Linked DNA regions of Homo sapiens: all the other regions are reported to be linked to region 1. Evidence: microRNA targets listed by miRTarBase, many of them from high-throughput screens and not tested one by one. Region 1 holds a microRNA gene; each other region holds the end of a gene's coding sequence.

Evidence for each region. Region 1 holds the annotated microRNA hsa-miR-519d-3p (CAAAGUGCCUCCCUUUAGAGUG, at 3,447-3,468, opposite strand). A microRNA usually pairs through its seed, bases 2 to 8, with sites in the 3' UTR of a target mRNA and lowers its output. Matches are read on the target gene's strand: a 7mer-m8 pairs with bases 2 to 8, a 7mer-A1 pairs with bases 2 to 7 and ends in A, and an 8mer does both.
Region 2: miRTarBase lists NIBAN1 as a target of hsa-miR-519d-3p. Seed matches in the 3' UTR shown: 7mer-m8 at 4,114-4,120, 8mer at 4,085-4,092, 7mer-A1 at 2,259-2,265, 7mer-m8 at 1,679-1,685 and 7mer-A1 at 687-693.
Region 3: miRTarBase lists VPS13C as a target of hsa-miR-519d-3p. Seed matches in the 3' UTR shown: 8mer at 3,374-3,381.

The regions. Positions count from the first base shown.
Region 1 is chr19:53,711,792-53,716,867 of GRCh38, reverse strand. MIR519D (microRNA 519d) reads right to left here and starts at 3,521; the gene lies at 3,434-3,521. It overlaps MIR517A (microRNA 517a), which reads right to left and starts at 4,600; the gene lies at 4,514-4,600. MIR521-2 (microRNA 521-2) reads right to left here and starts at 274; the gene lies at 188-274.
Region 2 is chr1:184,790,523-184,795,598 of GRCh38, forward strand. It overlaps NIBAN1 (niban apoptosis regulator 1), which reads right to left. Exons shown (of 14, transcript NM_052966.4): 14 at 510-5,076. The coding sequence ends at 4,455. Among named protein-coding and RNA genes, the nearest start is that of EDEM3, 38 kb to the left of the region's middle.
Region 3 is chr15:61,849,999-61,855,074 of GRCh38, forward strand. It overlaps VPS13C (vacuolar protein sorting 13 homolog C), which reads right to left. Exons shown (of 85, transcript NM_020821.3): 84 at 4,873-4,956; 85 at 2,391-4,560. The coding sequence ends at 4,459. All of the region lies in intron 2 of LOC124903501 (a long non-coding RNA gene), which reads left to right. Among named protein-coding and RNA genes, the nearest start is that of LINC02349, 120 kb to the left of the region's middle.

The DNA of each region.
Region 1 (5,076 bases):
CTGTCCCAAAAAAGAGGACCATTTGAGCCCAAGAGACCTAGGTTGGAAGTGCCACCATACTCCAGCCTGGGCAACAGAGATCCTGTCTTAGAAAAAAAAAAACAGACGCCCACCATTGTCAAAGTCTGATTATAAGCAGGCTCTGCAAAGTTATTTGCAAGATCAGCATCAACTTCAGCATTGCTTTTCTCACACGGTAACACTCTAAAGGGAAGTGCGTTCTTTTCTTTTAGACAAGAGAAAATTCTTCCCTTTGGAGAGTCACAGCCCGAGACCTTCTTACTCCAGCACTCTGGGTTTTTTGTTGACATTTTTGTTGACCAGGCTAAACTGGACACAAAATAAAGATGCACGTATTGGCCCTGTTTACACGTTTTCTGGAATCCAAAACATAAACCCCTAAAAGGACCATCTCCAGTTCCTTGCTTCAAACAATCAGCAGGTTAGCCTTGTTTATCATAGGACAATCTTCCTGAGTTTCGTATCTGCTAAGAAAAAACAATGCCTACTACACGTAGCTTATATTTAAGCAGGAGAATTGGTAAGATTTCTGGAGAAGAGCAATGGATTATGAGCCAAGGGTGCACTTGAGTTCCAGGACAGGTACACACAGTCCCGATGGGAGCACCCAAAATCGAGTCTACGATGTTGAAGAATATACATTGTCACATACACAAATATTCTCCAGGATAGACCATAGGCTTGGTCATAAAAACTCAATAAAATCTGAACAGAAATACGTAAGTATGGGTGGGGTGGGTTGGCTCACACCTCTAATCCTAGCACATTAGGGGGCCAAGACGGGAGGATCACCTGAGCTCAGGAGTTCCTGAGACCAGCCCCAGCAACATGGTGTAAACCCATGTGTATGAAAAACACAAAAGTGAGCCAGGTGTGGTGGTGCATGCCTGTAGACACTAATTCAGCAGGTTTAGGTGGGAGGTGGAGGTTGCAGTGAGCCAAGATCGCACCACTACACTCCAGCCTGGGTGATAGAGCCAGACCTTGTCTCAAAAATAACCAACTGGCCGGGCGCGGTGGCTGACGCCTGTAATCCCAGCACTTTGGGAGGCCGAGGCGGGTGGATCACGAGGTCAGGAGATCGAGATCATCCTGGCTAACATGGCGAAACCCTGTCTCTACTAAAAATACAAAAAAAAATTAGCCAGGTGTGGTGGTGGGTGCCTGTGGTCCCAGCTACTCAGGAGGCTGAGGCAGGAGAATGGCGTGAACCCGGTAGGCGGAGCTTGCAGTGACCCGAGATCCTGTCACTGCACTCCAGCCTCGGCGACAGAGTGAGACTCTGTCTCAAAACAAAAACAAAAACAAAAAACAAAAAACAAAAAACAAAAACAAAAAAAAACCAGCCAAACAAATAAAAAACATACACACACAAAGAAAGAAAAAAATACCCAAGGTTATATCAGAGTATTCTCTGTATTTAGAACAGTATTTTGTGTGTATATGATTATATTATATATAAGTATATATATAACGAAATATATACCATATATTTCTGAGACCCTGTGTCAAAGAAAGTTCCATATATTGTATGCTCACAGGAAGAAAAATTCCTACACAAGTGCTTGCTTTGGCAGTTCACATAAAAAAAAATTGGAATGACAGAGATTACGCTGGCTGCTACACAAAGGTGACACCCAAATTTATGATGTCCCATATTTATCTATTTATTTTTATTTATTTTATTTATTCATTTATTTTTGAGACGGAATGTTGCTCTCTGGCCCAGGCTGGAATGCCATGGCTTGATTTCAGCTCACTGAAATCTCCTCCTCCTGGGTTCAAGGGATTCTCCTGCCTCAGCCTCCGGAGTAGCTGGAATTACAGATGTGCACCATTGCACCCAGCTAATTTTTGTATTTTTAGTAGAGACGAGGCTTTGCCATGTTGGCCCTGTTGGTCTTGAACTCCTGACCTCAGGTGATCCTCCCGTCTCGGCCTCCCAAAGTGCTGGGATTACAGGCATGCGCCACCGCGCCCGGCCTATTTTTTACTTTCTTGAGACTGAGTCTCACTCTGTTGCCCAGGGTGGAGTGCAGCAGAAGATTTCAGCTCACTGAAAGCTCAGCCTCCTGGCTTCATGTTGGCCAGGCTGGTCTCGAACAACTGATCTCAGGTGATCCTCCTGTCTCAGCCTCACAAAGTGCAGGAATTACAGACAAGAGCCACCATATGCACACTAGTCCCATATTTAAAATTAGGAAAAAAAAAAACAAAACAAAGATGCCCACACCTGAACAGCAAATCGTTTGTTGTTCAAGTACATCTCAAATACATTGTTTATCTAAAATACAAGTTTAACTGGGGTCAGGTATGAACCAAAGAACAGTCCTTACTTTCTTCTTGTCTGTGCATGGGGGGTTAATATTCACATGTGGTCCCATCTACCAAGGACTGGGGAGGGGCAGAGGCAGGAGGATCTAAGCCCACTTCAGCCAGGGCAGCATAGTGAGACCGCCGTCTCATGCATTTATCTCCTGGTCATGCACCCAGATTTCAGCTTCATTTCCCCAATAAACACTGAAGCCCCATGCACTCCACCTCCGTGCTCTTGCTCATCCCATCTGCAGGGACACTGAGGTCCCCTCAACTCCACCTGACCCCACGTGAGGTTCTATACCAGTGCCAGAAAAATTTCCATAAAGTAAAAGGTGCTGATGGCTGTGCCCGGTGGCTCACGCCTGTATTCTCAGCACTTTGGGAGGCCGAGGCCAGCGGCTCACTTGAGGTCAGGGGTTTGAGACTAGCCTGGCCAACATGGTGAAACCCCACCTTTACTAAAAAAAAAAAAAAAAAAAAAAAATCAAAATCAAAAAGTAGCTGGTTGTAGTGGTGGGTGCCTGTAATTCCACCTACTCAGGAGACTGAGGCAGGAGAATGGCTTGAACCTGAGAGGCAGAGGTTGGAGTCAGCCGGGATCATGCCACTGCCCTCCAGGCTGGGTGACAGCAACACTCCATCTCAAAAATGAATGAATGAATAAAAAAGAAAAATACAAATATTAGCCGAGTGTGATGTCAGGCATCTGTAATCCCAGCTACCCAGGAAGCTGAGGCAGGAGAATCACTCGAACCCGGGAGGTGGAGGTTGCATTGAGCCAAGATCGCGCCACTGCACTCCAGTCTGGGTCACAGAGCAAGACTGTATCCCATAAAAGGACCATCTGAGCCCAACAGGCCTATCTTAAAAAGTGCTTCTCTAGTCTCTCCTGGGCAACAGAGACCTTGTCTTAGAAAAAAAAAAAAACACAAAACAAAACACACACACCAAAACAAAAAACAAAAACCTAACAAACAAAAAAACCAACCAAACAAACAAACAAAAAAACAGACTCCCAACATCATCCAAGTCTGATTACAAGCATGGTCTGCAAATGTATTACCAAGATCAGCATCATCTTCAACGTGGCTTTTCCCAAACGGTAACACTCTAAAGGGAGGCACTTTGTTTAAGAGAAAACAAACAGAAAGCGCTTCCCTTTGGAGGGTCACAGCATGGGATCTTCTTGCTCCAGCACTCTGGGTTTTTTGTTGAAATCTTCCTTGACCAGGTTAAAATGGCCACAACAATAAAGATGCATTTATTGGCCCTGTTTGCCTGTTTTCTAGAATCCAGAACATAAACCCCTAAAAGGACCATCTCCAGTTCCTTTCTTCAAAGGCTCTGCAGGTTAGCCTTGTTCATCAAGGGGCAACCCTCCTGAGTTTTGCCTCTAAAGAGAAAAAGCAATGCCTACTACACATACCTTATATTTAACCAAGAGAACTGGGCTGGATTTCTAGAGAACAGCAATGGACTTTGAGCTGAGTGTTCACTTGAGTTCCAGCACAGGGATACATAGTTCCGATGGGAGCATCCAAAATGGAGTCTAAGATGTTGAAGAATATACATTGTCACACACACAAACATCCTCCAGGATAGACCACAGGCTAGTGGATCACCTGAAAGCGGGAGTTCAAGACTAGCCTGGCCAACATGGTGAAACCCGTCTCTACTAAAAACATAAAAATTAGCTGGGTGGGGCAGTAGGTGCCTGTAATCCCAACTACCTGGGAGGCTGAGGCAGAAGCATCACTCGAACCCAGGAGGCGGAGGTTGCAGTGAGCCTAGATCATGCCAGTGCTCTCCAGGATGGGCAGCAAGAGTGCAGGACACGATGGTGGGTGCCTGATGCCTGAATTCCCAACAATTCGGCAGGCTGAGGTGGGAGAATCACTGGAACCCGAGAGGTGGAGTTTCCGGTGAGCAGAGATCCTGCTACTGCACTCCCAACGAAACAAGAGTGTGTCTCAAAAAATCAAAAAATAAAAAGAGGACCACTTAAGCCCAAGAAATCTTGGTGGAAGGTGCTATCCACCCACGCCTGGGCAATAGAAAGCCTGTCTTGGAAAAATTTCAAATCACAAACAGAACCCCGACATCATGCAAGTCTGATGATAAGCACGCTCTGCAAATGTATTACCAAGATCAGCAGCATCTTCAACGTTGCTTGTCTCAAACAGTAACACTCTAAAGGGATGCACGATCTTTTCTTTTATACAACAGACAGTGCTTCCATCTAGAGGGTCACTGCCTGAGATCTTCTTTTTTTTGACACGGAGTCTCACTCTGCCGCCCAGGCTGGATGCGGTGGTGGGATCTCGGCTCATGGCAACTTCTGCCTCCTGGGTTCAAGCGATTCTTCTGCGTCAGCCTCCTGAGTAGCTGGGATTAGAGGCACCCACCACCATGCATATTGCATATATGACTGCATATATGACCTGGTCATGCACCCAAGATGTTGGTTTCATTTCCCCAGTGAAAACTCAAACCCCATGCACTCCACCTCCGTGCTCTTGCTGAGCACATCCCATCTGCAAGGGACACTGAGGTCCCCCTTTGACTCTACCTGACCCCACATGAGGCTTTATAAATCAGTGCCAGAATAATTTCCATGGACTAAAAGGTGTTAATGGCCATGTGTGGTGGCTCACGCCTGTAATCTTAGCACTTTGGGAGGCTGAGGTGGGCAGATCACCTGAGGTCAGGAGTTCGCAACCAGCCTGGCCAACATGG
Region 2 (5,076 bases), not on the chromosome of region 1:
TTGCGTTTGCTGATGTCAGGGATCATGTCTACTGTGTTCACTTGTTTCTCCACCACCCACTGGAGTGCCTGCTTATAGGAGGTGACCAGTCATTATTTTTTTGATGAATGAATCCACGGATAAATGAGCAACTGTGGACATGGCAAATAAATACTGTTGTATATATAATTACAGAAAGAATGAATGTTTTGCTCAATGTTACCCATTGAAAATAAATTTAAGTTTGAACAGCAGTTCAATTACATCAAGAATAATTGCCCACTGCTGTATTATGAATGTGATCCAATTCCTGGAGACGTAAGCATATGCATTATCAAAGCATAATTACACCTGACATTAAGTGGTTTCCCTGCAGATTCCTTCGTGACAACAGAAAAGTAAAAGGTCCATGATACAGCAAGAATGACTCGCCTTTTCGTTTCAGAGGGCTGTACCTCACAATTCAAATGTGACATCTGCTTAAAAGATGAAACCAGCCTCCTTCCAAATAAATGACATCTGGTCAGCTCTTCAAGGATGAACATTTTATTGGAATATAGGCACCTGGCAGAGTAAATACATGGTTACAAAGTGTTTTAAGTTTATTTGCTTTATATAGTGACCGGGAAAGTCAATCCACAGTGTCGATTTTTTTTCTTGAAGTTGCAGACTTTAGAAGGCAAACCCTCAAACCCGTCTCTTTATGGTAAAGTGTGAAGGCACATGTTGCCAACTGTTGCACCGACTGATACTATTATTAAGTCAATGATGTCCTTCCCTTCTTCACATCAAAATTGCTATGAATCACATATCACTTAACCTTATTATAATGAACGAAAATCACTTTTGTCTTGGGGAATTGTGAAACCTTTTGAAATCACTAGCTCTGACATAGAAGATTACCAGACTTGAGAATTTTTATAATAAAATATGTAAGGCCAGAAAGCTTTTGGACAAGTTGGAATCTTACCCTGGTAGTCTCCAAAATCTTTTTTTTTTTTTTTTAAAGAAAGTTTACTATGTGTAATGCAAGGCACTTATGTCTCTGCTTAAAGCTACAAGGGAAAAAATGACAAGCCCAGTTTTTTTCAAGGGAAATATTTTTTCTCTGTGAAAGGTCAGTAGTAAAAGAGCTAGTTTAAAGTCATGGAGTTTTTGCCAAAAACCATGTCTCGAGGTTTTATGCATTTCTAATGGCTTTGCCCATAGGAGAGATACCCAGAGTGGCAAACAGAGGCTAAGGAAAAAAATGCTGTTCATTTAGATCAGAATAACCTCGCTCCAATCTGGAAACCACTCAAATGACACATACAAGTCTGTATGAAAAGCAAAACAAACTCATGGTGATATGCAGTTATTCCATTCAACATGTTAAAATGAAGACAGAGTATTTTAAATGCACTCTAGTTTCCTGTTCCATCTTCAAATTAAACAATCATCCTGCTTATTCTAGAAAACTTTTTTTTTTTTTTTGAGACAGGGTCTCATTTTGTTGCCCAAGCTGGAGTGCAGTGGTAAAATCATAGTTCACTGCAGCCTCAACTTCCCTCGCTCAAACAATCCTCCTGCCTCAACCACCCAAGTAGCTAGGACTGCAGGCACACACCATTATTATTTTTTGTAAGGATGAGATCTTGCTATGTTTCCCAGGCTTGTCTAGAACTCCTGGGCTCAAGTGACCCTCTCACCTCAGCCTCCCAAAGTGCTGGGATTATAGGTGTAAGCTACCACATCCAGCCCAAAAACTTGTCTTTAGTGAAATATGTACAGAAAATTCTTTGATTATATTCTGGAGTACATCCTGCCAAATAGTGCCCAGTCCTCCCTGACCTACATGATGGATAAAGTTAGGGCACTGATGTTCATCCATCCAATGCAGTGAAAGGTACTCTCTTTTAGGGTTGAAAAAAATCTCTTAGCTTTCCAGGGGGTGCAAGAAGCCCTGCATTGAGCAAAGAAAGGAAGCTAGGAAGCTCCGGTGTGAGGTCAGCCTGGGCTGGGACTCCACACTACTGTCCCAGGGAGTCGGGCAGCCTTTGTGGGGCTGGGCACTGCCTCTTTGGCTTCCTGCCTTACTGGGCAGTGCATCTGGCCATCTGCCCCTTGGACTTTGGACTTTACTTAAGAGAAAACTCAACAAGGGCAGAAAGCCCAATTCAAAACGTCTTTCTGCCTGACAGCAGGCCCCAAATAGCCCCAGCACAGCAGTGTTCTGGGTGTCCAGTTCCCACATTTCCCGAGCAGCCTGACGCATGCCAGGTCCTATGCACCAGGGATATTAAAGTGACTCAAGGAGGCAGGAAGCCATTATTCAAGGCTGTGGGTTTCTAGCAGGAAGCACAAATGATGACTAAACCCTAGTTTCTGTCTTTTAAGAGAGGAGCCACTTGGAGAGACAAGAAGTAAACCTAATTTCAACACACCATGCTAAATGCCAGGATATGAGTGAGCACTGCAGAAAGCAGAGACTGGGGGAGAAGTGGTCTTTACTTCCTTCACCTGTGGTGGGATCCCTCAAAGACATGAGGATTTAAACACGCCAAGAAAAGTTGCAACAATTAAATATGATATTATACATATACTGAGTATTATTCATGTTTATGACCTAGAAATTCTTCATGGGAGGGCTGAAAAGGGTGATATTTTAATTTCTGGTTAAATGGTTGAACTGTGTGTGAAGCAAATGCTCTAAAGAACTGACATAAATTTACTCGATAGTGATGATCTAAACAAGTTCTCAACAAATATGTTGAGATCTGATGTTAAAATTTGGGGAGGGGCCAGGTAGCTCACGCTGTAATCCCAGCACTTTGGGAAGTCGAGGTGGGTGGATCGCTTGAAATCAGGAGTTTGAGACCAGCCTGGCCAACATGGTGAAAACCCATCTCTACCAAAAATACAAAAATTAGCCGGGAATGGTGCCGCATGGCTGTAATTCCAGCTACTTGGGACGCTGACAGAGGAGAATCTCCTGAACCCAGGAGGCGGAGGTTGCAGTGAGCCGAGATCACACCACTGCACTCCAGCCTTGGCGACAGAGTGAGACTCCATCTCAAAAAAATAGAATAAAATAAAATAAAAAGTCGGGGAGGGAAACCACGATGTAATACTTGGGACTGGAGATTTTAGGAAATGATCTGGTATTTTTCTGAAGGAGAAAAGAACAACTCCTTTTAATCTTTTGGAAGCAAGTCTCTTCCATTTTCAACATTAATGGTTATAGGTCACCATCCGTTAAGAAGATGTGTTTTGTCTATTTCCATTAAAATGTAAGTTCTAGGAGGAAGGAACAAAGTTGTTTTTCGCCATGGTATCCCCAGTGCTTGGTATATAACAGAGACTCAATTAGCTTGCTGAATGACCAAACAAATGATTTCAGCTTTTGATAACATCTTTGGAACTTGAGAGCATACACCTTGGCTTTTGTCTTTATTCATTTATTTATTTATTCATTCATTTTGTGCCCTTCTGGGAATGAACCAGGACTATTTGAATGGAAAGAGAAAAAAAAAAGCTGTCATAGTTTAAAAATTGGCATATGTTCTCTTCCAGATTAAATTCCCTTGGACCTTTTAATTTATGCTAGAACAAGCACTTATCTTTTCTTTTTTTTATTACTAAGCCCAACACAGTGCGTGGCATGCAGTAACTGTTCAAATAATGTTTGTTTAATTGACGGGTTTTAAGCTCGATAACTTAGCTAAGCCCTTTGCACAGTCTAAGCCTAATTTGGAATGCTTTCAGTCTTACCCAGGCCAATAAAATTTTCTTGCCTCATCTGAATTTCCTGCAAATGTGATTAATTAATAAGAATCATCAAGATTAATTAATAAGAAATTGATAGCAGGATGAGTAACAGGCCCAGACAGTCCCACAGATCACACCTTCCACCCTCCATTTCCGCTTAGCTTCTCTTGAATCTATTGGGCATGATTGCCTCTGTGGGGGCTACAGCCAGCACGGGTGACTGTTCATGACCTACCCTCTCTTGCAGTCTGACTGTGGACAAATGCCGAGTCCTTAAGAGATGGTGAAGTAGGCATAGTAGATAGTAAAGGTAGACTTACAGTATACATTTGCATTCTCAAACAAAATTAAAAAGCCTTAAAGTGCACAAGAAGATTGCACAATTGAAAAGTGCAGAGTATACTCAAAACTGTCATCCTACTGTTTTCTCAGTCTTCCCTGCAATACTATTCCCTCCTCAGACATCCTCAGCTCCCTCTCACCCCAAGTATGCCATTGTCTTTGTAATTCTTATTAAAATACTAAAGCAAAAATTCATCGTAGAACAATTCATGTCCACAAAGGTTTGCCTCAGTTGCTCATGCCCTGTATGCATTTCCTCTGGTTTTATTATTCAAATTAAGAAAATACTTAAAAATTTTTTGGTAACAGCTTGCATGCAACCCCTAAGTGTACCCCTATAACCCTTTGGCTTTTTTCAGAGAAAGACTTCAGCCAAATTGTCCCTTTCACTCCTCTGAGGGCAGCTCTGGGAAACTCTCCTGACCACCTTCTCCCTCCTTCACGTCATCTTTGTGTGACAGCAGGACATCCGGGTTTGGAGCATCCTCCACCACCCACTGACACTCATGAATACGGGCTACCTTGATCTCCTCTGCATTCACACTGGCCGTGGCCTGGGCCGCGCTGCTTTGCCCTCCCATCTCTTCTTGTTCCTCAGAAACCTGGCTCTCACTGAGGCAGATGGGGTCAGAACCTAAGGTGCAGCCCTCTTGCTGTGAGGCATCCCCTTCCTCGGTACACTTGCCCCCTCTTCCTTCATGGGCAGTGAGTGTGCAGGCCTCTCCTGGGAGCTCCCCCTCCATGGGCCCCAGGGGCTCCTCGGTGAGCCCTCCACTGGCTGGCGGAGAGGCTGGGCTGCCTACCTCTGGAAATCCCCCCAACTCCTCCCCATGGGCCTCGGGACAGGGAGGTTGGGCCTCCCTCTCGCTGACTTCACTTTCTTCACAGTTGTCGGGGTGGATGGCAGCTGCCTGACTGGGCTCTTTTTCCTCTTCTTCTTCATTTTCTTGGGGAACGTGGCTCTCCCCATTCGTATCTTCTTCCATCACTGGAGCAGAGTCCACTGGT
Region 3 (5,076 bases), not on the chromosome of region 1:
TGCTTGATCTTTCTTCAAGTTTAAAATAATGCTAAAGAATTAAATCTTCTTTGTAGTGTTGTTATAATCTTAGTGGATAGAGGACCATGTTGGTATATATATTTCATTACTATTCTAATTTTTTCCCCACTAGAAGTCAATTTTTAAAATCTTTTCATCCAGCAGATATGTAATGTACAAAAGGGATAAAAATAATTTTGATGTGCTTATGTTTCCATATTTGTTCTCAAGTGTCATCCTTCTGATACACATCATGTGGCAACATATATGTTGACACCAATTTCTCTGAACTCTTTATCAAAAAAAATTTGCCAGCACTAACTGTAAAATGAAACATTAGTATGGTCTGAGAGGGAAGAAAATTCTGTTGTTTCTTAGAGTTTCTCCTATAGTCTATGATTTTTCTAAAATTTGAGAAGCAAATTTAATACATTGAGAATTTTGTAGGTATACAGCTCTACAATCTCTTACCTAAAACCCTGAGGCTAGATGTTTCAGAATAGAGGACTTCACATTTAAGAAAGGCAATATGGGCTGGGTGCAGTGGCTCATGCCTGTAGTCCCAGCATTTTGGGAGGCCAAGGTGGGCAGATCACCAGGTCAGGAGTTCAAGACCAGCCTGGCCGATGCGGTGAAACCCTGTCTCTACTAAAAATATAAAAATTAGCCAGGCGTGGTGGTGCACGCCTATAGTCCCAGCTACTCGGGAGGCTGAGGCAGAAGAATCGCTTGAACCTGGGAGGCAAAAGTTGCAGCGAGCTGAGATCGCACCACTCCAGCCTGGATGACAGAGTGAGACATCGTCTCTAAAAAAAAAAAAAAGAAAAGAAAAAAGAAAGACAATATGGTTCATATACCACATAGAGCTTGTATGCCTCCAGGGAAATCTGCAGCAGCACCCCACAACCAAATAAAGTACTTTTGCTACAGCCAAATTATCTACACCAAATAGAATAAAAGACCATGAATAGCCTCATGTCAATTCAGTTCAGATTTTGCTGCCAAATGTCTTTGTTTCAAAGTTTTGCAAAATCTTTTGGTTTTCAGAGCCTTCTGAATTTTTGAATTTTGAATAAGGAACTATGTGTCTGCGGTTTGTAAAAACAAAACAGAAAACTCTTTCTGAAGACTTTTTCACCTCAAAGAGACCCACAGTTGACTGTTTGAATGATACACACTTATAACTGAAGATACTTTCCAGCATGAATTCAAGAATAAGCCTCAATTTTCCCACTAGCGGCACAGTTACCAAGAGAAATGTGCTCCCTCCGCTCCAGTGAGTCTCGATTTCTTCTTAGAGCTGACACACATGGCACAGAACCCACTTTCATCAGTACTCATGGTCATTCTGGCAGTGATTCTCAACCACAAGGGCTTGTCCCCAGAGGACAAATGACCCTGTTATGAGCAATCTTCTATCCTCTAAGAATCTTTGGTTTTTCTCCCCAATAAAAAGATGATTCTTCCAGCTCTGGCAATAATTGCAACTTAATATTAACTAACATTGAGATCTGTAGAGCCCTTTAAGAATTTGATCATTTTAAGTCCAGAGCATTAATTTTTAGTCCTGGCTGTACATTAGAAACACACACAGAACTTCGTTAAAAACAGATATCCAGGCAGCACCAGATCAACATACTTAGAAACTCAAAGCACCAAAAAGATGATAGTGTCCTCCTTCATGCATAATTCAAAATAAAAACAATACTAAATCATAAAACACATGGAAGTAAGTCCACCCTGGATGGCATTTTTCTTACGAAGCTTGGGTACAGTCTTCTTCCTTTTTTTTTTTTTTCCTTTTTTAATGCCCCTGCTTTGCTACAGCCCTCAGCATGAACTTATTCTTCCTACCAGATAATCCAGCACTGGGTGAGCCTTCCAAACTGGTAGTCTGAGCCCCATGTGGAAGAGGGAGGAGAAGAGAAAGACAGCGGTATGGTAGAACATCCCAGACTGCCATGCAGTCTAAGAAAGGTTCTGCAAGGCCACTGAAGAGTCTTCAAGCCAAAGTCGGCTGTCAGAGGAGTTCTGTGTCTCCTAGAATTTCCAGACTAAGTATGTCTTAGTATAACTTCATACTCAGCCAGTCGCTGAGAGAAACCACGGAAGGCATGGGCTCAATGCAAATACAGCAATGGATTTCAAAGTGCAGCTGGGCCCCTAGGTCAACCGCATTCTCTGTAATCCCCCAGTATTGGAGGTCTCTGCCACAGATCTCTAGTGTGATAAAGGGGCTCAGTACCCCTGAGAAAAAGCTTTTCTGACTAGTATCTTGTAAAGTCCTCCATAACTATCAATATAACTTCTCACTATTTTGGGATTGGAAGAGGAAAAGGGAAAGACAAAAAGTAAAGCAAATGTTACTTGAATAACACAAACCCACAAAGTTTTCACACCTGTAAACAATGTGCCAAATGTTTTATTTCTCTCATATGCAAGTAATTACCTCTCAAAGCATTTTTAAAAAACGCATTATTACACTTTACCAATGAATTATTTCTGTCCCTGGAGATTAAATCAAATCAAAATGTTACAAATAGTATCAGTATGATATAATTTCTTAAATATATGGGACATTGTCAACAGCTGTGATTCATATGAAAAATATAATCAGATATCTCAAATTCCTAATTCTGTTTTAAAAACACAAAACACTAGAACAGTTGCTATGAAATTACTGATAATGATCCCTTTAATAAACTGCAATTAACCACTAATATAGAAATTCAATTTAAGCAAGAAGTTTTATATATTATACTTTACAGAAAAAAATAATTTTGAAAAAGTAATGACAAACAGAGATCAAACATTTAGGGCATTAGTTACTGCATTCTCTTTTTAGAATATACATTAAGTAACACTAGTAAAATTTAAAGTTTTATGACCAGGCCTTAAAAAACATGAATGATGATGACAGAACCACTATCACACATAAACAAAAATAGAGCAAACCAAGCGTGTCCACATCTCCATGAATTCAGTGATTTGAAATAAATGTTGTTATGTTAAACATTATGAGCAAATCTAAAGGTTCAACCAAAAAACTTACATATTTTTGAGTATTTTTTAAAGTTTTAATAGTTTATCTCTGATCAAGGATGGAGAAAGGACAAAAAAAAATACTGTCCTGAATTGATTCTCACAGGGCCTGCTCCCTCACAGAACACAGTGTCATTATATATGCCTTATTTATATATAAAACAACCAAAGAATTTTCATTCTTCTTAGTAAGTATTTAAAATACATTCTAGGCGTGCATTAGGAGTAAATGTTAATTTGTGATGCCCTTAAAAGACTTTCAACCTGTAAGAAACAATTTCTGGGAATATAAAAATATTGAATTTTACATATTTCAGAGTCTTGAGAAACTTAAAGTGCAGTATTTTCATGTATCAGCAAATAATAATTGTGTCATATAAGCTCATCTTGAAAGAGGATGTAAATACTTCCAAATTTTTATGAATGCTACATTACAGAGGGCAGAGTGTAGCTATTTTAAGGTTTGATTGTCCAGATTTTTTTATTAGACTGCAAGGAGGAAAAATAAGCACCAAAGTAAAATATGCTTTATTAGGGGGAAAAACAGTGTTTTCATGAAAAGAAAATAGAAAACATGTCATTTCTCCCTTTAGTGACCTTTCTTCATTCAATTACCTGGTTTACCAAGAATGTTAACTCAGTTCAATTATTGAACAAATCACTCTTAAACAAAATGTCAGGATCCAACATTTGTTCATGGGTTAAAGCCTTTTGGCGGGCCGTGGTGGCTCATGCCTGTAATCCCAGCACTTTGGGAGGCTGAGGCATGCGGATCACAAGGTCAGGAGTTCGAGACTAGACTGACCAACATGGTGAAACTCATCTCTACTAAAAATACAAAAAAAAAAAAAATTACCCAGGCGTGGTGGCACACACCTGTAATCCCAGCTACTCAGGAGGCTGAGGCAGTAGAACAGCTTGAACCCGAGAGGCAGAGATTGCAGTGAGCCAAGATCGCACCACTGCATTCCAGCCTGGGCGACAGAGCAAGACTCGGTCTCAAAAAAAAAAAAAACCCCAAAAAAACAAAAATAAAAAAACCTTTCAAAGAACACTAGTCATTCTAAGCTCATTTCTTATTCTTCAGTAAGGCTTTAATTAAATATAAGCCTATTGACCTTTGCTTCACAATTTTAATATTAATGAAAATTTCATTCTGAGTTTGAAGTGACGTTTCTTCAAGGGTCTGACCCATTTGGGTGGTGGCGTAGAAGTGGACTGCTAGCATATACATGGTTACAAAATTAGAGTAAAAACTAAAAGGTGAAAAAACTAGAAAACCCAATACTAGCTATTCCAGAAAACTAAAACTAAAGGATTGCTTGAAAAATTGTCTTTAGCAAGATAAAGCAGAGTGACTTATAGACAAGACCAGTGATTGTTTTTTCTCCCTGTTGGAGCCCCTGAGGTCTGTGATTAAGATGGCAATTGGGGTCTGAGAAGTCTCACTGATGACTGCTTCATCAATTTTTGCTGCTGTCTCGTTGACTGTGCATCCTCAATGGCATTACATGCTCTCTGTAAAGTAAAATACTTATTATGAATTTTAAAGACAAGTATAGGCTCATTTGGTTGAAGGGAAAGGTATGAAAGCAAGGGCTGAAGCTCTCCAAACAGGACCAACAGCTAAGGACCAAGGATACAGTCCAGATGTGTCATATAAAAATAAGACCCTTGCACCCGACTGAGTCCACAGCATATTAAGTTTATATATCCATCCATAGTTATATTTGGGAGAGCTTTGGGAGAAATAATGGTATTCATTATAAGAGGCTTTTAAAAAAGTATTTCAGCTAAAAAAAATTGAGGCATGCTCTTTAAATTGTTTACCTCTGCTGTGGCGGTGTCCTTCAGGTAAACTTTTCGAACACAGCCTTGATTGGCACTGTCTTTTTTGTGGAACAGACCCTGTTCCTGTTTCAAAAGAAACAATGACAGAAAAGAAATTATTCTGAGGAAGAAAAAAATTCCTAACTTTTAATTGTATACTTAAATGTCAACTCTATCTTATAACAAGTAGGCTAACCAAATACA